Linked DNA regions of Homo sapiens: all the other regions are linked to region 3. The links come from fine-mapping of genetic effects on gene expression. A gene starts in region 3. Each other region holds a variant in brackets. All regions are shown on one strand. Distances are between the middles of the regions.

What was found. PIP is the estimated chance that this variant, and not a neighbour inherited with it, causes the effect.
Region 1: its variant is the best candidate, but not a certain one, in a credible set for the expression of MOV10L1 in subcutaneous fat (GTEx, PIP 0.75).
Region 2: its variant is the best candidate, but not a certain one, in a credible set for the expression of MOV10L1 in fibroblasts (GTEx, PIP 0.81).

What each region holds. Positions count from the first base shown.
Region 1 is chr22:50,124,931-50,131,955 of GRCh38, reverse strand. It overlaps MOV10L1 (Mov10 like RNA helicase 1), which reads right to left. Exons shown (of 27, transcript NM_018995.3): 11 at 6,387-6,564; 12 at 5,684-5,754; 13 at 3,449-3,540. Among named protein-coding and RNA genes, the nearest start is that of MOV10L1, 38 kb to the right of the region's middle. The variant C/T (reference allele first, on the strand shown) is at 3,117.
Region 2 is chr22:50,114,822-50,121,846 of GRCh38, reverse strand. MOV10L1 (Mov10 like RNA helicase 1) reads right to left here. Exons shown (of 27, transcript NM_018995.3): 8 at 6,601-6,733; 9 at 4,496-4,690; 10 at 1,231-1,345. Among named protein-coding and RNA genes, the nearest start is that of MOV10L1, 28 kb to the right of the region's middle. The variant T/C (reference allele first, on the strand shown) is at 2,869.
Region 3 is chr22:50,086,986-50,094,010 of GRCh38, reverse strand. MOV10L1 (Mov10 like RNA helicase 1) reads right to left here and starts at 4,005. Exons shown (of 27, transcript NM_018995.3): 1 at 3,826-4,005; 2 at 1,826-2,010. The coding sequence starts at 3,922.

The sequences.
Region 1 (7,025 bases), 38 kb before region 3:
TGGTGCCTTGACCTTGGGCTTCCTGACCTCCAGAGCATGAGAAATACATTTCTGTTGTTTATAAGCCACCCCATCTATGGTGCTATGCTAATGCAGCCTGAGTGTACTAAGACAGACAATAAGACCCTGTAATGTTGGTGTCAAGACAGACAAGTGTACAATGGAACACAACAGAGAGTCTTCAGAAACAGATCAACAAATATTTGGTCAACTGATTTTCTTTTTTTTTTTTTCACAAAGGTACAATAGTAATTCATTGGAGAAAGGGCAGTTTTTTCATCAAATAATGCTTGGACAACTGGATGTTCATTCCACCCTCCAATTTCCATTCATACCCCACAAACAATTTGCAAAGCTTAATGAGATAGATCATAATCCTAAATGTACAGGATAAAGCTGCCAAGTTTCTAAACAGGATAAAATCGTTGAGATCCAAATTAGTTACAGATTTCTGAGATGCATCATTAAAAGATCTGTGAAAGAAAACATTCATAAACTGGACTTCACCAAAATTAATAATTTCTGCATTTCAAAAGGCACTATAAAAACAATGAAAATACAAGCTGTAGTCTGAGGAAATATTTGCACAGACACGTATCTGATAAAGCACTGTACTGAAACTATACAAACATCTCTGCAAACTCAATCATGAGAAAACAATTTTTTAAAATGGGCCCAAAGACTTGAGGAAGGACTTCAACAAGTATTTTGTACAAATGGCAAAAAAGCACATAAAAAGATGTTCAGTGGCCGGGTGTGGTGGCCCACACCTGTAATCCCAGCACTTTGGGAGGCCAAGGTGGGCAGATCACAAGGTCAGGAGATTGAGACCATTCTGGCTAACACAGTGAAACCCCGTCTCACTAAAAATACAAAAAAAAAAAAAAAAAAATTAGCCGGGCGTGGTGGTGGGCACCTGTAGTCCCAGCTACTCGGGAGACTGAGGCAGGAGAATGGTGTGAACCTGGAAGGCAGAGCTTGCAGTGAGCCGAGATCGTGCCACTGCACTCCAGCCTGGGTAACAGAACGAGACTCCGTCTCAAAAAAAAGAAAAAAGAAAAGATGTTCAGCATCATTAGTCATTAGAAAAATACAAATTAAATCCACAACGAGATATCCCTTCACACTACAAGAATCAGCTCTGTTCCAGAGTCAAAGCAGGTCAAGGAGTCCAGGCCTGGACGTCGGCTGCAGTCTCTCTAGCTGCCATGATGGAGGCTGTGTGCCTTCTACCAGCGCTGCTGCTCCCTGTGGTCCCAGCCAACCCTCACACGTCATCATCCAACACAGCTGCCCCTTCCTTCCCATTCCTGGGTCTTCTCATGGCACTCACATGCTGGGGTCTCTCATCTTGCACAGCAAACAAAAAGTACCCCCCTCCTGGTCCTCCTGTATCTCTTTGGTCACCAATTTCTCTCGCTCTCTCTCCATCCTGCCCTCCCTGCTTTCATCGGCAAATGCCTTAAAAAGGAATCAACGACATTTCTCCATTCCCCCGTAGTCCATTCATTCATTCTCAATACATTCCAATCTGGCTGTAGCCCAAATACTGCCGATTTCTCAGACAGACATAAAAAGCACTAATATTAAAAAAAATTTGATAAATTTGACTATATTAAAACTAGCACCTTCTGTTAATAAAAAGACATATATATATAAAATTTATTTATTTATTTATTTTTTGAGACAGAGTCTCGCTCTGTCTCAGGCTGGAGTGCAGTAGTATGATCTCAGCTCACCGCAACCTCCGCCTCCTGGGTTCAAGCAATTCTCCTGCCTCAGCCTCCCAAGTAGCTGGGACTGCAGGCATGTGCCATCATGCCCACTAAGTTTTGTATTTTTAGTAGAGACAGTGTTTCCCCATGTTGGCCAGGCTGGTCTCGAACTCCTGACCTCAAGAGATCCACCTGCCTTGGCCTCCCAAAGTGTTAGGGATTACATCACACCCAGCCTCAAAAGATACTTTTTAAAAAGCTAAAAGATAAGGAAGAAATCTGGAGAAGATATGTACCTAAGAATAGTTTATCATAAGGAATACAGAAAGGACTCCCACAACAATGAAAATTGGATAAATTACTCAATAAAAAAGAGGGCAAAAGACGCAAGCAAGCATTTCATGGAAGAGGAACATTTTACGGCCCACGAACAAGAAGATTCTCAGCCTTGTAAATAAGTCAGAGAAAAGTAAATCAAGACCATCATGAGATGCATTACACACCTACCAGACTGGCACCAATTAGGAAGTCGAACAAAATCAGATTACAGAAAGGGCACCGATCAGCAGGCTGTTATACACATGGATACTGAAAGTCACTGATGCAACCACTTGTAAAGCTGGAAAAACCCCAAACCCAGCAATCCCATCCCTACATACACAGCAGCTCTAGGAACAGCAGCAAACAATCGTAACAGCAAACAATGAAGATGTCCATCAACAGAAAAACAGCGGGTATTCACACAACCGCAAACCAATGAACAGCAGTTACAACAACACGGAGACATCTCAGGAACACAATGTTTAGTGAAAATCTCGACTCCTAGGAACCAAATACAGCAAGTTACTCCTTTTCTAAAGTTCAAAAGAATTAAAACTGAAGAATACATTTTTTGTGCATGACTAGTTAATGGTTTTGTGGAGGAAGAAAAAGCCAGCTGGGTGCCAGGTCACAGCACCCCTCATCCGACAAGAAAACAAATAAAAGTAAGGAGCTGGTAGCTGACGGTGACAGTGAGGCATGAACCAAAGATCCGGTGCACATGAGATCTGGGAAAGAATACACATGCAAATGTATGCACCTTTATATCTCAAAAAATAGTTGATAATAAAGCTAGAAACACGGGGTATGCAAAAATGCTGTAGGAGCCCACTTCCATCCACAAGGCCTATACACGTCAACCACAGGCATGGTGGGGGCTCCTACGTCACTACTTAGATGTCAACAGACATACTCAAGAGAACACTGTCCAATTAAAGATAAAGAGACAAATTAACTGGGCATGGTGCCTCATACCTATACTCCCAAAACTTTGGGAGGCTGACGCAGGAGGATCGCTTGAGCCTAGGAGTTTATGACCAGCCTGGGACCCCATCTCTATTAAAAAAAAAAAAAGATGGC[C/T]GGGCGTGGTGACTCACGCCTGTAATCCCAGCACTTTGGGAGGCCAAGGCAAGCGTATCACAAGGTCAGGAGTTCAAGACCAGACTGGCCAATATGGTGAAACACTGCCTCTACTAAAAATACAAAAATTAGCCAGGCGTGGTGGCAGGCACCTGTAGTCCCAGCTACTTGGGAGGCCGAGGCAGGAGAATCGCTTGAACCTGGGAGGCGGAGGTTGCAGTGAGCCGAGATTGCGCCACTGAAATCCAGCCTGGGCAACAGAATGAGACCCAGTCTCAAAAAAAAAAAAAAAAAAAAAAGACATTTGAAAGAAGACTCACTAAAAGCATTACCTATTATATGTAAATTCCACATCCATAGGTTCAAAGTTATAGGCTTGTTCAAATTCTGGATTAATTTTAAGAGTTACATCTTCTTCATGAATCTAAAAAAGGAACAAACAATATACCTGATTTCTTGAAATAATGTGATATCTTTATCTAGCGACACATCATCAAAAATTCATTCTATAGCTCTGAGCTAAAATTTGATATCTGCAAAATTAGTTGAAAAGGATTAAATCATTACGCCATTCGATTATACAAACAAGAGGAAATGGATCACTACACACTCATACTTACTGAACTTCTATTCACTTGGCTGTAGCCTCTCCTAAGGCTCTGAGAATAGAGAATGTGTGGGAGGTCACTGACTCCATAGGACACAAACAAAACAACCACAAGGGTAGCCAAGTGTTACCTACTGTAAGGAAGCCTCGATAAGAAGGTCTGCTGGGTGCGGTGGCTCACACCTGTAATCCCAGCACTTTGGGAGGCCAAGGTGGGCGGATCACCTTGAGGTCAGGAGTTTGAGACCAGCCTGGCCAACGGGGCGAAACCATCTCCACTAAAAATAGAAAAAGGACCCAGGCGTGGTGCTGGGCACCTGTAATCCCAGCTACTTGGGAGGCTGAGGCAGGAGAATCTCTTGAACCTGGGAAGCGGAGGTTGCAGTGAGCCAAGATCGTACCACTGTACTCCAGGCTGGGTGACAGAGTGAGAATCCATCTCAAAAAAAAAAACAAAAAAAACAGTCATTACAAGACTTATCCTTTTAGTAGAAAAGCCCTCCAGCTAAAGCAAGATCCTGCATGATCAGTTCTGCATATTCTTTCCTAGACAGTATGGGTAGAAAAATAAGAAGGAAAGCCCTGATCTGAAAAGGAGCTCAAGCTCTTCTCCAGGTGACTCAGGCAACACCCTGGTAGGGTGAGTTTCCTGAGGGTCAGGGCTGACACCAGCAGAGAGTCGGGAAGCTACGCCCTGGGATGGCTTCCAGCTCCGGGAGGAAGGGAAGCAACAGTGGTACAGGGCCATGGGATTGTTTCCCCTGAGGATGAGGAAGACAGACCAAGTCCTGACTATACACAGGAGACATGCGTTAGTCTACTTGAGAACAGGTGCAGGTGGCATCCAAGAAAGCCTGAAAAGATGAAAATAATTTTTGGAGCTAAAAAGGATACGGAAGGTCATTTCAGATGCCAGGGTTTGATCAATGGCATGGAGGCCCGGCCATATGGCTCAGGAACCAGGGGTGGAGGCAGGCAGGTGCCTTCCTCCTGAGATCTCTGGCTCTGCTTCTTTGGAGGTTTTGGTATGCAAAGCTTCCTTTCTTGGCACAGCTGGTCTAGGAGGCTAAGATGGTCATTCGGCCATCTTGGGCTCCTCATGTCAACTTGGTCAACAGCAAAGGTGGGTAATGGAGAGCTGGCGAGGTCATGTCACTCGTGTCTCACATCTCAGTCCACAGGCGATGGCCTAATTCATTACAAAATCTCTGAAATCCTGCCAAGATGTTGTCTTCTGGGAAATATCCCACTCTGTGAAATCAGCCACAGCATGGACCCTGCATGAAGGTGTAGCGCAGAGTGACTGTGGCATCAAAGGTCGGAAGCTGCCTCTTCTCCAGATCCTTATCAGGCTCTTCTAGTTCTCTCAGCCCTTCTTCCTTCTGACAGTAAAGGCTCTGGCATTCTCCCTTCAAGTTTTCTACATTAAGTAATGTGTGGCTTCATCTTCTCTGATGCACAGATAGAGCACCTCCCTTCTCATGCAGATCCCAGTATCACTCCCAGTGCTATGACCAGTACATGACCAGTAAAGTCCAGCCCAAGAGTCACAGACCACCCCATGCAGAACCATCTGGAGCACCAGGATCTACTCAAAGCCAAAAAAACCACCTTCACGCAAACATCAGAGCTGCAAACTCATAGGTGTATTTTTCCTTTCAAGGCCTCCACTCTGCGAGCTCTTCTGGAATACATTCAGAATGCCCAAATACAACTCAACGCAAACCTCATGACTTACATATAACCTAAAAGATAAATATGTTTTACATGGTTGAAAATTATAGTATTAAGTTTCCTTTATGCATCAAAAATTATTTAAAGATTCACTGTATCTTGACATTTTCCAAAATAGCCAATGCATATGGGAGCATCTCCCCAAGAGCCGTGGGGAGAACGTTACCTTTCCAACCGGTCAGAAGGGTGTGTCTAACACAAACTCATTAAGAGAGAGTGCTCTCACCTCAGTCACGTAGCTGATGTATTCGATGGCATGTCCATTGTACTCTTGAGTTTTTAAAATCAGTTTATCACCTAGTTAAAAAATATATTACCATGTTTAAAGCTAACACAAAATCACAAATTTCTGTGCTGTCCTATAAAATCCAACACTGAGGAGGTTCAATAAAACGTTACTGGGGTCAGGCTGGGTGCAGTGGCTCATGCCTGTAATCCCAGCACTTTGAGAGGCCGAGGCGGGCGGATCACAAGGTCAGGGGATCGAGACCATCCTGGCTAACACGGCGAAACCTCATCTCTACTAAAAATACAAAAAAAAAAATCAGCCGGGTGTGGTGGCGGGCGCCTGTAGTTCCAGCTACTCGGGAGGCTAAGGCAGGAGAACGGCGTGAACCCGGGAGGCAGAGGTTGCAATGAGCTGAGATTGCGCCACTGCACTCCAGCCTGGGCGACACAGCGAGACTCCACCTCAAAAAACAAACAAACAAACAAACAAAAACATTACTGGGGTCAACTGCTTACAACTAATGAAATACAACAAAGAAACATGCTTGATGTACATCGGTTGCTGATTTTTAGTGAAATTCTAACCCAAAAGAAAGAAAATGCGATAATGTGACTGTCATATTGCCAGTTAAAGAGTATCTTCTCTCAAGTATGGTTTCTCTGCTAGTCCACCCAGGGAAGCATATGAGTAACAAACACACCTGCGTAGAGAGAAGGCCTCCCTTCGGCCAACCCTGGGACCTCCAGAACCAGCAGATCCCCATTCCTTCTTAAGATGATCCCGCTCATGTTATACTCTTTCAGTTCCATTTCTGCATAAATCTCCTCAAGCCACAGCAAAGTCGAAAACTTCTCCTTGTAATTTGACATGTTCAGAAGCTGGAAAACACCCAAATGTTATAAAGTCAGCAACAGCTCAGCAGCACTCTGGAAAGTAGCAGCTCCGGAGCAGGAAAGTTCCAACAGCTCCAGTTCAGCAGATGGCCCCCCAGGTGGGGCGATCCTCGCCGGAGTCTGCAGGTGCCTCAGTAAGTTCCCCGGCCTTCAGCACGAGGGCCATGGGGCTCCAGCACACTCCCTGGCCTTTGGCATGAGGCAGTGGGGCTCCAGCTGGCGGTGTCCCTCCCTGCACTGCCCACTCCTGTCCACCCTCCCTGCTCTTTTTCAGGTTGTCCACGTTAATTCTGGGAAGGCAGAATTTGGCTTCCACAGACATCTGTGAAAAAAGGACAAACTTCCAGGTCTGGCCAAGGTGGACTAACAAGGACCAGATTTACCCTTCTACCTGAAAAAAACTTAAAGAGACAGAGAAATAAGAAACGATGGTGTTTAAACAATGA
Region 2 (7,025 bases), 28 kb before region 3:
CCTGATTTCAAAACTTACTACAAAGCTGCAGCATCAAAACATCAAGTCGGTGGCCTGTGGAAGGAACTGAGGAGCACCCTCCAAGCCCAGCAGACCTGGGTCCCCAGGGAGGAGCTGAGGAGCACCTCTCCATCCTAGCAGACCCAGGTCCAGCTTTTTCTGCCACCTCGATGAACCATTCAGGCATTTGCCTACAAACTCAAAGTGACTGGGGGACAGAGGACTGCGCTCGCGACTCATGGCAACCTCCCTGCCCAGGATCTGTGAGTAAAACACATCTGAACTTGTTTCTATCACGGCAGTGGATTGAATTTGCACCTTCCATCCTAAGAACCCAGCACTGCCCAGGCCGGGTTTTCCCTGGCATTGGGGAACATAAGTTTGGGCTCCCAGTGCCAGATGATCAGGCAGGCATAACCTGGATACAGGTCAGACGAGAGCCACTGGGGCGTCTGCCAGAATAAGTTTCCTGCGTGAGGAACCCCGGTCATGGGGCATCAGCTGTCCTCCTGGTAAAACAAGGACATTTTTTTAAACAAGGAGGTGTATTTGGAAAGGATCCCCTGAAGGGCGCATGGTGAACACCTAGGTCCCATTCCCTTCATTCTCCTTAGGACAGGGCTGCCAGCTGCTCTGGCACTGGAACTCCAGTTTAGCTGGGGACTCTCAGAACACCTCAAACCCCTACAGAAAAAAACCCTCCTGGACAAAGGGCAATGTTCTCCCCTCAAACTGCCAAATTTATAGACTTTTCTTCCTTCTTGAACTTTTCTTCTCCACCTACCCCACTCAGAACGTGCTCCTCTGTCTCCCATGTGGGTGGGGACCTGGGCTCTCCTCCCCTGGACCCTTGCCCTGCTGGCTCTGTCAGGATGATGGTAAAAGGCTAGAACACTTCTTGCTCATAACAAAGGCCTCCTAGTCTAGCGAGAGAGGCCAGGCTGATGGCAGAGGTATCCCTCAGTTCTTCTGCTCCAGACCCCAAAGGCCCTGTGCGTGACCCCCAGTGAGGCTGTGGGATGCCAGCCCCTGGTGTACAGCAGGTCTGGCAGCGTGAGTGCTATGGTGCCTCATCCCTCACGGCCAGGCAGTGACCCTCGTTATCCCAGCTACCTGTGAAGAAAACAAGCCAGATGAAGGTCTGAACCTGAGAAGGAACCTCCTGGCTTTGTCAGAAAACAAGAGCATTAGAAGATGCCAACACCCCACAGGCCATGAGACACTTCCTACCTCTGCAAGTAATGGCTGGAAAGTCAGGATGTCAATTTTTTGTTCCACACATTTTCTAAGTCTATCTGGGATTGGATATTGGGGAAGAAAACTTGGAAGTTGTCGTCTTGAGTTCCTTAAAAAATTAAGTTCACAAGTTAAAAATAAGTCTTTATCACCAGGTATCACTAGACATTCTTACCTAAACATCCTTTCCTATTTTAGGAAGACCAAAGTCCATCCATTTCCTGAGAAGAACTGATATATGAATAGCTGGTCTAAGGCAGTGGTTTGAAGCTTTCGTTTTAGCTCTGGGATCCTTTCCTCAAACAGTTCCCACAAGTGCTCTACTATTTGTAAACAGGTAAGTGTAGCTGCACAGGCTGTGGGAAAACAGGGCTGGAACCCCCAGAATCTCCTGGAACCAGGAGTTTGGAAACAGCTGTTTTTAACATTCTATGAGCTAAGCTCTTCCTACTATATTTGACATCAGGACTCCACCTGGGCCTATCCCTGCAAAGCACACATTAGGAAAAGGCTGCTCTGTCTGGGTCCTGCCTTCGATTTGTTTTTGTTTTGTTTCCCAGCCTGTGGTTTCTCTGGGGAAATTCAGTTTGTTCAGGATGAAGAACATCGCTGCTCTGGAGCCAAGCCCAATGCGGCAACAGAAACAATGGGAAAGGGACAGACAGGAGAGGAGAAGCCAGGAGAGAACAGGGAAACGAAAAGTCAGAGTGAGGTCGATAAAACTCAACTCAGCAAATAAGGATGTTGGTTGGACCTTTATCCCTCATTCCCTCCCAGCTCTCCATTTCAGTGCAGTCTCACCCAAGAGAGAAGCCCACATTGCTCTCCGTATTCCATTCACTGTCATCTCAATTTGGGTTCCACTGGCTCAGCCCTCAACAGGAGAAACGGGGTGAAGACATTCCCCATGGTTTGTGCTGAGGGTTATGTCAGCGCTCACATGCGAGGTGTATTTGGAAAGCATTGATTACTAACACGAACAAGGTAAAGGGAAACCAGGATGATCACTACAGGCTTAGGTCAACAGCCTGAACAGCTAACAGAACCATGTGGCCTCAACAGACACGCTGGATTAACAAAATGTGGTTCCTACCATGATGGGTGGCTAGAAACTTGGCTGGGAGTGTGCTGGCCTACAAAGCCCCCCAGAACAGATCTGCTAAGTGAACACTCTGCTCTAGCTAAGAGCCAAAGTTGCCTGGCACTGGGGGTCCTAGCAGGAAGTGCAGGACCTGTGACAGGCGGCCACGGATGGACAGCTCTGGAAGCAGGCACCCGCCAATGCCCGCGTGGGCAGGTCCAGACACCTGGTGCTCCAGGTGTGCTCGAGCCAACCCGGGTCAGGCACTCTGGGTCACTAACCTGAGTGGCAGGAAACTGATGTCCTTGTTTTAGATACGCTCCCACACAATATGTTAATATTCACGGGGAAGTAACTGACCAGGGGGTTAAAATCCTTGTGGCTGTTGCTCTGTGTATTTCACTCTTTCTGTTAAGCCAAATGATAACTAGAAAGCTGCTTGGTGTGTCACTAGATGAGAACCAGGGATCCTCCAAGGCTCCTGTCATTAAAACTCGATCCTCGGGGACTCTGCTCTGCCTGGCAGCCGAGGGACTTTCCTGCTCCTTTTC[T/C]GGGTTACATCCCTACAGCCCCTTGATGTTGAAACTGTGCCCCAAAGAGTTAAAGAAACCGATGACTAACAGAAATTCTTGAGCCTGCAGGATGGGTGATAAGAAACAACTCCAGCGCTGAGTCTCCCCCTGCTTATGACATCAAAGGACTGGCTGAGATCAGCTGGAACCAAGATGGACAACTGGAGTTTGTGCAGAGCTTACTGACGTCACAGCCTGGATTCCCACCGTGTTTCATGCGAACTCCCTCCGAACTGGCACATGTGACCCATGAGGTAGCATGAAGGGGTAACTATGCACACCCAAGGCCTTTCCAGACCTCCCTTTTCCTTCCACCAACCACCTATTAATCCCAGATTCTACCCACTAAACGTTTTCTGACAAAATTACTGCCTTAAAGCCAGCACAGAGAGACACATTTGAGCTTGACTCCTGTCTCCTTGGGGGTTGGTTTTCAATACAAAGCTTTTCTTTTCTCAGAAACCCACTGTCGTAGCAATGGCCCCTAGTGCATCAGGCAGTGAGCCCCTTTTTCTCAATAATAATATGCCCAGGGATCATGACTGCTTATTCGCTTACTGAGTGATTGCTTTGTGCCAGAAAACTGCACATTTTACATGTCTGACCTCATTCAATCTTCAAACCACACGAGGCAGGGACTATCATTTTACCAATGAGAACAAGGCTCAGAGTGGTTAAGAAACTTGCCCAAGGTCACACAGCTTCTTGGTGGTGGTGCTGTGATTCAAACAATGGTCTAACCTTAAAAGGTAAACAACCACATGATATTCTTCCCTGGTAACAGGTTTTCCCTTTAGTCTGCAACTAAGTAGAAGTCCATAATCCCTCATCTTGAACTGTAACTGGGGCAACACGTGATTTGAAATTCAGAATCTTTCAGTATTAGAAAAGTGACCCACCTCACCCTCAGGGAGGTCTGGGGTAGTAGCAGAGCTCAAACCCATCAGTTATTATAGCCGATGGAGGAAAAGTCACATCACACGGGACTAAGTCATTACACTTTAAAAAGCCTGCTATTCAGGGCTTTTTCGTTTTATAACTACAGAAGAGAACACGTGGATGTGAAGTGCTTTCCTGAGACTACCCTCCAGTTAAAATCTGGGTGGTCCCTATGTTCCCCAGCCACAAGTCCCAGATCACACACTGCTTCTCCTAACTCCATTCTTAAGTGGTACCACATCTTCAAACAGGCTTCAGGTGACCCCACAATCCTGTTGCCCCCAGTGCGAATGACACGGGGATGCCGTGCACTACACACCATGGCCTCGTCAGGACGGGAGAGGTGGCAGGAGCTGGGTGAGGCCAGCCTGCTCTGAGAGCCACCTTGGAACTGCCAGAGCAGAGTGGGGCTTGGGGGAGTGAAGGCCGTCTTCCTTGGGCTTCACGCTGCTGCTGGGCAGCTGCAGAGACAGAACTTGACCTTCAGAGCTCCGTGGAAATGCACTCCATCCCCCAAATACAATCATGGAAAGAGGCTTGAACCCCAGCTTCATCCCCTTTATACCTCCCCAGCCAGGTGGTAGCCACCGCTTGCCAGTGCACGTCCGCTTTTCCTTCACAGATAAAACTGCCAGACCAAGAGCCACACTCATTTCAGTTATGGTACCTTTTCTGTGCGGTCACAACAACTGTAGTTTTTGCGGATGTTAACGCTTGTGAACTTTTAAGCTTTTTCCAAGAAAATGGTTCGCGCGCAGCAATTAGTGACTCCTCCCCACTGATAACATTTACTTCAAGGTATCGCCCAATTAGGAAATCGGAAAAACAGAGCAAAAGGAGCTCCTTGCAGCGGCCAGGATTTCTTGAAAAAAACAAAATGAAATTTAGTTTTAGTCATAAATAAGATAGGCAGTCAACACAATTTTCCTTTGTACATACAAGAAAAGTGACAGAGTTAAGACTCATCTTTAGTCTTCAATAATTCTTTTTACAGAGAAAAAAGAGATCTTCTAAAATAAGCTATGTAATTAATATTTTCTCAAGATAAAATTAAGCACCTACAGGCCCGGTGCGGTGGCTCAGGCCTGTAATCCCAGCACTTTGGAAGACTGAGGCGGGCAGATCGCTTGAGCCCAGGAGTTTGAGACCAGCCTGGGCAATATAGGATGAACCTGTCTCTGCAAAAAATACACAAATTAGCCGGACATGGAGGCGTGTGCCTGTGGTTCCAGCTACTCGGGAGGCTGAGGTGGGAGCCTAGGGAGGTGGAGGCTGCAGTGAGCTGTGATCATGCCTCTGCACTCCAGCCTGGGCAACAGAGTGAGACCCTGTCTCAAAAAAAAAAAAAAAAAAAAAAAGTAAGCATCTACAATAGTCTTTTTTGTAATCCTAACACATATAAGAGTAGGAAAAAATTTTGATATTCCCAATTTTAAGTCAGAATTTTATGACATGACCAAAAATAGGTACTATATCTAATGTGCTTTCTGCCCAGTCCTCGCTGTGGCTCTAACTGGGGCTACATCATCCACACTACACTTTGTGCCCCCCTATGGCTTTTTTTTTTTTTTTGAGACGGAGTCTCGCTCTGTCACCCAGCCTGGAGTGCGGTGGCGTGATCTCGGCTCACTGCAAGCTCCGCCTCCCAGGTTCACGCCATTCTCCTGCCTCAGCCTCCTGAGTAGCTGGGACTACAGGTGCCCGCCACCACGCCCAGCTAATTTTTTTTATTTTTAGTAGAGACAGGGTTTCACTGTGTTAGCACCTATGGCTTTTTTGAAAAAACCTGTTTCTATGTTGTCATAATGTCAAAAAAAAAAAAAAAGCATTGAAGCTGGCTGCACCTCACACAGCTGACTGTGCACTTGCCACCCACAGCTTGATGTTGATGAGCTGTGATTTAATCAGATTTAAGTTTTTCAAAAAATTTAGAATTAGACACCCAGCTGGAAGGCTATCACGCACTGTCGGGCAGCTTAGGCAGGGATGCAGGGACACAGGGAGCTGGAGGACAGGGCCTGTTTGGTCAGCTGATGTAACCAACCACACCAGGGAGAGCGAAGGGCTCAAGGTTGGCGTCTGGCATCCCAGCTAGGAAGGGGCCCTTCCTGCCCCTCCCTCAGCACACTGTGCTGTCCGTGCCTTGGCCAAATGCCCAGGTGACGGGATGGAGATGACCGAGGCCCCAGGGCTTGGCTATGCGGAACACGGGCAAGGCAGTGAAGAGGAGCCAACGTGATGTCTCAGAACAGCAGAAGCACAGGGAGCTCAGGCCTCAGAGAGCCTCAGAGACACCCTGTTTTCTTTGTGAGGGTGAGAGGCCATCTGGTGAGGACCCTCATGAGTCGTGCGAAGTTACAGGATCCATTGCCCCAGGTGGGTCACACTTGGTACCCAGCTTCTAGACCAATGCTTTTTCTTAGGATTCTGTCACATCAAAAACGTCAGGTGTACCTTTTTGTTTTTTTGAGACAGAGTCTTGCTCCGTCTCAGGCTGGAGTGCAGTCGTGCGATCTTGGCTCACTGCACCCTCCGTCACCTGGATTTAAGCGATTCTACTGCCTCAGCCTCCTGAGTAGCTAGGACTACAGGGGCCCAAGTAATTTTTGTATTTTTAGTAGAGGCGGGGTTTCGCCATGGTGGCCAGGCTGGTTTCGAACTCCTGGTCTCAGGTGATCCACCCGCCACAAAGGAGTACCTTTTATAACACCCAACCTAGAAGTATCAGAGAAACTTAAAAACGCGGCTCTCCCCAGACCTCCAGGCCCTTACTTTCCGTCACAGATGACCACAATGAAGGTTTTTCCCCCTGGAGGGACAAGCCCCCCAGGCTCAGGCTCTGTCATCTGCTTCCTTGATAGAATGTTGTCTTTTTCTCCATTTTCTCCTTTACAGGTACAATCACCTGGGAAATAAAATTTTAATACAAAAGTTGACCAAAAGGTAAATTATCTCTAACAGTGCTGGCATGCTTAGTGGAAATGAATACTCTCTCACACACACAAAGACAGATGCACACAAAAACACGGGGCAAAGCCTCAGGTGGTGGCTGGAAAAACATAAAGAGAGAGAGCAGCTGGAAGTAGGAGAGGGCTGTGACTACCAAGTGCTGGGATAGAAGGCCTGCCCCGGCGCGCCCAGCAATCTTTCCCTGCTTCGAGGTACTCAGGAGCCGGCCGCCATCTGAAGCACCTCTT
Region 3 (7,025 bases):
GCCCCCTTACAAGCATCAGGACCACATCACATGCAGGTGGGATTCTGATACATGATTAAGGAATTTTCCAAATCAGCAGGGAAAAAGTGAGCTACTCAGATGACTGGCTAGCCATTAGGAAAGCAATGTCTGGTTCCTTCTCTCAGTCTGTGCACCCAAATAAATTCCAGGCAGGTCAAATATTTAAATATCAACAAACAGGCCAGGCATGGTGGCTCATGCCTGTAATCCCAACACTTTGGGAGGCCGAGGTGGAAGGACCACTCGAGGCCAGGAGTTTCAGATCAGCCTACGCAACACAGTGAGACGCCATTTCTACAAAAAAATTTTAAAAATTAGTCAGGTATGATGGTGTACACCTGTGGTCCCAGTTACTCAGGAGGCTGAGGTGGAAGAATCGCTTGAGCTCAGGAGTTCCAGGCTGCAGTGAACTATAATCGCACTACTATACTCCAGCCTGGGCGACAGCGCAAAGCTCTGTCTCAAAAATTGAAAAAAAAATTCTAATTGTCAATAAACAATTTTCAGAGTAAAATTTGAATATTAGGAATAAGAAGTGGAATAAGCCTCCCTAAGGCTTCTTACAGCATCCAAAAGCTACATGGAAAAGAGGCACACTTAACTACAAAAAATGAAACTATAAAACACAGTCAAAGATGATCCTGGGGAAAATATTCCTAACACTTTCATATAATAATTTTCCTTAAAAAGCTCTGATTTCCCTAATATATAAGCTTTAACAAAAGAAAAAGCTGAACTCAACAAAAATGTGGACAAAGGACCCAAAAATAATTCATAGAAAAAACATGAGGCCGGGCGCGGTGGCTCACACCTGTAATCCTAGCACTTTGGGAGGCTGAGGTGGGCAGATCACGAGGTCAGGAGCTCCAGACCATCCTGGCTAACACGGTGAAACCCCGTCTCTACTAAAAATACAAAAAAATTAACTGGGTGTGGTGGTGGGTGCCTGTAGTCCCAGCTACTCAGGAGGCTGAGGCAGGAGAATGGCGTGAACCCAGGAGGCGGAGCTTGCAGTGAGCTGAGATTGCGTCACTGCACTCCAGCCTGGGCGACAGAGACTCCGTCTCAGAAAAAAACAAAAACAAAAACAAAAAGAAAAAGAAAAGTTACCATACTTAAGGCTTAAGTGCAAATTAAGTGCAGTCTCTCATTCTGCTCCTAAGAGTATAAATTTGTATATTATTGATGTTACTTTGGTGATAACCATTAAATTGTTGAAAAAGCAAGAAAATAATGGATATATAATTGCTATGTTCTCCACAGCATAAATTCATAGGCAAACTTTACTTTCTAAAGTATACATGTCTATGTTGTTTGAATGATTTACAAAGACTGCTGTTTGTTTATTTATTGAGACAGGGTCTTGCTCTGTCATCCAGGCTGGAGTGTGGTAGTGCAATCATAACTCATTGCAGCCTTGACCCTCTGGGCTCAAGCGATCCTCCCGCCTCAGCCTCCCATGTAGCTGGGACTACAGGTATGTGCCACGACACCAGGCTAACTTTTGTGGGTTTTTTTTTTGTAGACACGAGGTTTCACCATGCTGCCCAGGCTGGTCTCTTAACACCTGAGCTCAAGTGATCTGCCTGTCTCAGCCTTCCAAAGTGCTGGGATTACAGGCGTGAGCCACTGTACCCAGTCTATTTTTTAAAACATAAATCATAAAGAGCAAAAGCATCCCCTTGAAGGTACATTCCACTCTTTCTCCCTTGGCCGGGTCATGTCTGATAGATTAAACACAAGGAAAAACAACACAAAGTCCCGTGGCGAAGAAAAACTGTTCCCAAATGAACTCAAACCTTACCCTGATTGCTTTCAGTCCATTGGACACTTTATTTTCTTCCACAACTGCAATCACTTCCTGTCCAACATTCAGAAGCACTCTGCTAGTCACAGCATCACTGGAGAAGTAGATCATATCATCAATCATGCCATAATCGCTGCAGTACCTTGTCACGACACCCCGTACAGTTTTCAGCTTAGTGTCACCTGAGGTAGGTAAACAAAGAAGTTATCTTGGCCATAAAAGCAAGCGTACGCTACAGTGAACCCCACCAGAGAAAGGCAGAGTGCAAAAGCCTCCTTTTTTTGCAGTTCGGAGGCACTGACTCCGAACGGGCTGACTTGAGACAGAGAGAATCCCATCAGAGAGTGCTGTGTCTGGAACGTGGGGTTTGGAGGCAGACAGCCCAGTTTCCTCAGAAGGGCACAGGTAGTGGTTGTGGAGGTGACAGCCCTGACTCCACAACAGACTGCATGGGGTTGACTCCTAGCTCTTCTACTGCCATTGGTGTAACCCTGGACTAGGTCCTTAACTACTCTGGGCCTGTTGCCATCTGTAAGATGGAGACTAATCGTCACTACCCAAGAGAGCTGCTGAAGGGTTAAGTGGCAGAACACACGTGCATGTATGGACCTCTGCGTGGCTGACACGCGTTAAGTGCTATGTAAATGGCCACTTATATCAGCATCTGGGAGTCATTAGCATGCACGGTTTTATTAGTACTATCGATTATCTTTTTATTACCATCAGCAGCAGCCTCGGAAGACTGGAGAATCTCAACAAACACGGTGCTGGAAAAGGTTCGGGGCTGGGCAGACAAGTCTGGCCCAGGAGCAGCGCACGCCCTCAGCCGTCTGGCCACTGCTGCAGCCACGGTCCTGAGTCCTGAACGTGCCTTTACTGCAGCTTCCCAGCCACGGGAGGAACCTGGGGCGACGGTTACAGTACAGGCATAGGATCTGAGCGCTGCCAAGAGCTGGAGCTCCAGCTACCGCTGAGCGCGTGTTCTACCGAAGAGATCCACGGAGCAAGTGCTCCAGGTAACACAGCCGGCCCCCCGGGCATCGGCCCTCGTGGATCCAGAGGCCCTGAACACGCTGCCTGCAGCAGGAAGCTCCCCTCCTGAAGCCTGTTCCTGTCTTTTCTCACAGAAGGCAATTAGGGACCCACTACTGTGGATTCCATTCCCACATAAGGAAACATCGGGAGAAGCCATCAGAACCTCGGGAGAGGTCGGGCGTGGTGGCTCAAGCCTGTAATCCCAGCACTTTGGGAGGCCAAGGTGGGTGGGTCACCTGAGATCAGGAGTTCGAGACCAGCCTGACCAACATGGCGAACCCCCCCTCGACTAAAAATACAAAAATTAGCCGGGCGTGGTGGCGGGTGCCTATAATCCCCGCTGCTCGGGAGGCTGAGGCAGGAGAATCACTTGAACCCAGAAGGCGGAGGTTGCGGTGAGCCGAGATTGCGCCACTGCACTCCAGCCTGGGCAACAAGAGCGAAACTCCGTCTCACACACACACACACACAAACACCTCAGGAGAAAGGAACGGTGAGGGCATCCGGGCGCATCCCGGGCTTTAGAAAGATGGGCTTGAAAACCAGACAAGGAAATGGCACGCCTTGGCGCAGCGCGTTCTGAAAGGACAGGCCAAGTCTGCGGGGCCGCGTTTTTCGGGGCTTTCTAGACACACCACCGCCAATGACGCTGCGGACAGGGAGGAACGACATGGAGAGACGACTTGGCAGCTGCTCGGCGTAAACACACAAAGTGAGGGCGGGAAGAGGGGCTGGTGTCACCGGAGAGACCTCACAGAGGACGGGCGCCCAGAGCGGCGGGATGCTGTGGGGTCGGAAGCCTCCTGAGGCGAACGGGGATCCCCGCCAGCGGAGATGAGGAAAGGCCGGGCCCAGCGTTGCCTGCCGGCCCGCACTGCACTCAAAGACCTATGGGCGCGGCTCCCTCGTGGCCGACACGCGAGGGCCCGGGACCCGCCTCCCAGCCGCCTCCCGCGAGCCACCTTCCGCGAGCTCGGGCTCCAGCTGCCCGGCTTCCTCCCTAGGGGTGTCCGCCGTCCTCCAGAAGAAGGCCACCAGCTTGGCTGCGAGGCTCAGCATGGCCCTCGCCCGGCCTAGGCTGCCGTCACCGCCGCTGCCGCCGCCCGCACGCGCCCGCGCCGCTCCCGCCGCCCGCCACCAATGGGGTCGCCGCGCCTGGGCATGCGCCTTGGGGTCGTTGCGCGAGCCGGGACCCGTAGCGGTCAGAGGTCGGCGGTTGGCGCCTGGCAGCTCCTGACAAGGCGAGGTGCCTGGTGGGAGTGACGTCATGCCGAGCGCGCAAGGCGGTGTGACCGCCGGGTGGGCGGGGCTTCGAGCGGGCGGGCGGGGCCTCGCGTGGGTGGGCGGAGCTTCGAGCGGGTCCGCCTTCTTGCCGCCCACACATTAGGGAAAAGTGCGCTTTCACCACCCAGAGTGATGTTAGGAGTCGTTTTTTGTTGGTGTTTTTTATCAAGTTGAGGAAGTTCCCTCTATTCCTGTTTTTCCAAGAGTTCTTATGAGTGGGTGTGAAATTTTCTGCAACGCTTTTCTGCATGTATTCAAATGATCCTGTAGCTTTTTATTTCAGCCCATAGGGAATTACATTGTTTGGCTCTCCTTGGAAAACTCACTTGGTCACGATTCGTTATCCTTTTGGTGTATTGCCTGACTCAGCTTGGTAACGCTTTGTCCAAGGTTGGGGACGGTGCTGGTGAAGCAGATTGCTCTGTGGCCGACCTCCCGTTTTCTGTGTCTGTCTGGTTTGGGGTCGGTTTAAGCCGGGCCTGCAGTGACCTGGGAGTAGGATGGGGTAACTTATTCCCTAAAAATTGTGGTAGTATTCGCTGGGGAACCCATTTGGGCTTCGAGATTTCTTTGTGGGAAGGTTTTTAATGAGAAATTCACTTCTGCATCAGCTAGAGGGCTATTCAAGTTATCAAGGTAATATTGAATAAACTTTGGTAATTCTTTTAAGGAATTTGTCCATTTCATCCAATTATTAGATGTCAGATTATTGGCATAAAGTTGTTCAGCATATTTCCTTATTATCCTTTTAACGTCTGTATGGTCCATAATGATGAGCCATCTTTCATTCTTGACATAGGTAATTTATCTCATCCCTCTCATTTTCCTTGATCAGTCTATATTTATCAATTTTATTGAGTTTTTAAAAAAAATCATCCCTTGATTTCATTGATTTTTCTCTATTTTAAAAATATCTTTACACTTTGCGAGGCCAAGGTGAGCAGATCACTTGAGGTCAGGAGTTCGAGACCAGCCTGGTCAACCTGCCAAAATCCTGTCTCTACAAAAAAATACAAAAAAAATTAGCCAGGCATGGTGGCGCATGCCTGTAATCCCAACTACTTGGGAGGCTGAAGCAGAAGAATCACTTGAACCCAGGAGGTGGAGGTTGCAGTGAGCTGAGATCACACCACTACACTCCAGCCTGGGAGACAGAGCAAGACTCTGCCTCAAAACAAAAACAAAAACAAAATACGTATATATATCTTTACTATTCCAGTGGTTTCTGTTTTTTATTATTTCTTTTTTTTTTTTTTTGAGATGGAGTCCTGCTCCGTCGCCCAGGCTGGAATGCAGTGGCATGATCTTAGCTCACTGTAGCCTCCACCTCCCGGGTTCAAGTGATTCTCCTGCCTCAGCCTCCAGAGCAGCTGGGATTACAGGCGTGCGCCACCACGCTGGCTTTTTTTTTTTTTTTTTTTTTTTTTTTTTTTTGTATTTTTAGTAGCGACAAGGTTTTACCATGTTGGTCAGGCTGGTCTCGAACTTCTGACCCGCAGGTGATCCACCCGCCTTGGCCTCCCGAGTGCTGGGATTACAGGTGTGAGCCACTGCGCCCAGCCCCGACTTATTTTTGATTGACATAGCTTTATTTTCCTAGGTCAGATCTGTCAGTCTGATGACAGCCTGGACCTTGCCTGTCCATGGATGCAGAGTGTACTGATAGTTCTTGCTGTGGGAAGGGAGAGAGTGGCGCACTCCCTAGCATTTCAAATCCCCGCTAAGCCTGTGTCTTGGGCTGGGTGCTGGAACACATACAGGAGCCAGCAGGGTCCCAGGGACCTACTGGTTGGTGGGAGATTAGCTTGGAAACAAGAGCGAGCTGCATGAGGGCTGGTGGCTCATGGGCTCCCTGCCAGGGCAGCTCGCAGCGGGTGCTGTGCCTGCAGGGCTGCCCCTCAGCTCCCCAGCTCGGGCCACTCCCTGGGATTCTGGACTCAGTAGACCCGGCAGATGCCCACAGACATCTCGGCCTCATCATGTCCAGAATGGAACTCCAGATCCTCGCTCCACACCTGCTCCACCCTGGTCTTCTCATCTCTGTCCTCACTGCTCAGACAGAACTCAGCAACGTCGCCCTGACAGCAGATTGCGTCCGCTCTTCAAACCCTGTTCAGAGCCCAGTCCCTCCTCACCACTTGCCCACTGCCACCTCAATGCCAGGCAGCACCTGCTCCTCCCACCCCCCAGCCTGCTCTCCACCCAGTGAGTGACCGGATGCTGCTCTGCCCAGACCCCTCCAGCAGGTCTGTCTCAGAGTTGAAGCAGAGTCGTCTCCATACCCACAGGTGCTGGCACCTGGCTGTCCTACCTGTATCCCCCTTGCATGGTCCTCGCCTGCCTTCCCCAACCTGTGGCCTTTGCTTCAACTCTGCCAGCCTCCCCTCCCTGCCTCCTTCTCACTGAGGCCTGCCCTGGCCCCTGCAAACAGCAGCCCCTCATTTCTCTCCCCTGACTTCTTTTCCCTCATAGAGGAAATCATGTGTGTCACTGGATGCATTAGTCTGTTCTCACGCTGCTATAAGGACATACCCAAGACTGGGTAATTTTAGAGTCAAGTCCTTATAAAGGAAAGAGCTTTAATTGACTCACAGTTCCACAGGGCTGAGGAGGCCTCAGGAAACTTACAATCATGGTGGAAGGGGAAGCAAACATGTCCTTCTTCACAAGGTGGCAGGAAGGAGAAGTCTTGAGCAAAAGCGGGGAAAGCCCCTTATAAAAGACCATCAGATCTCATAAGACCTCACTCATTGTCAGGAGAACAGCAGCATGGGGGTAACCACCCCCATGATTCAATTACCTCCCACCGGGCCCCTTCCACGACATGTAGGAATTATGGGAATTACAATTCAAGATGAGATTTGAGTGGGGACACAGC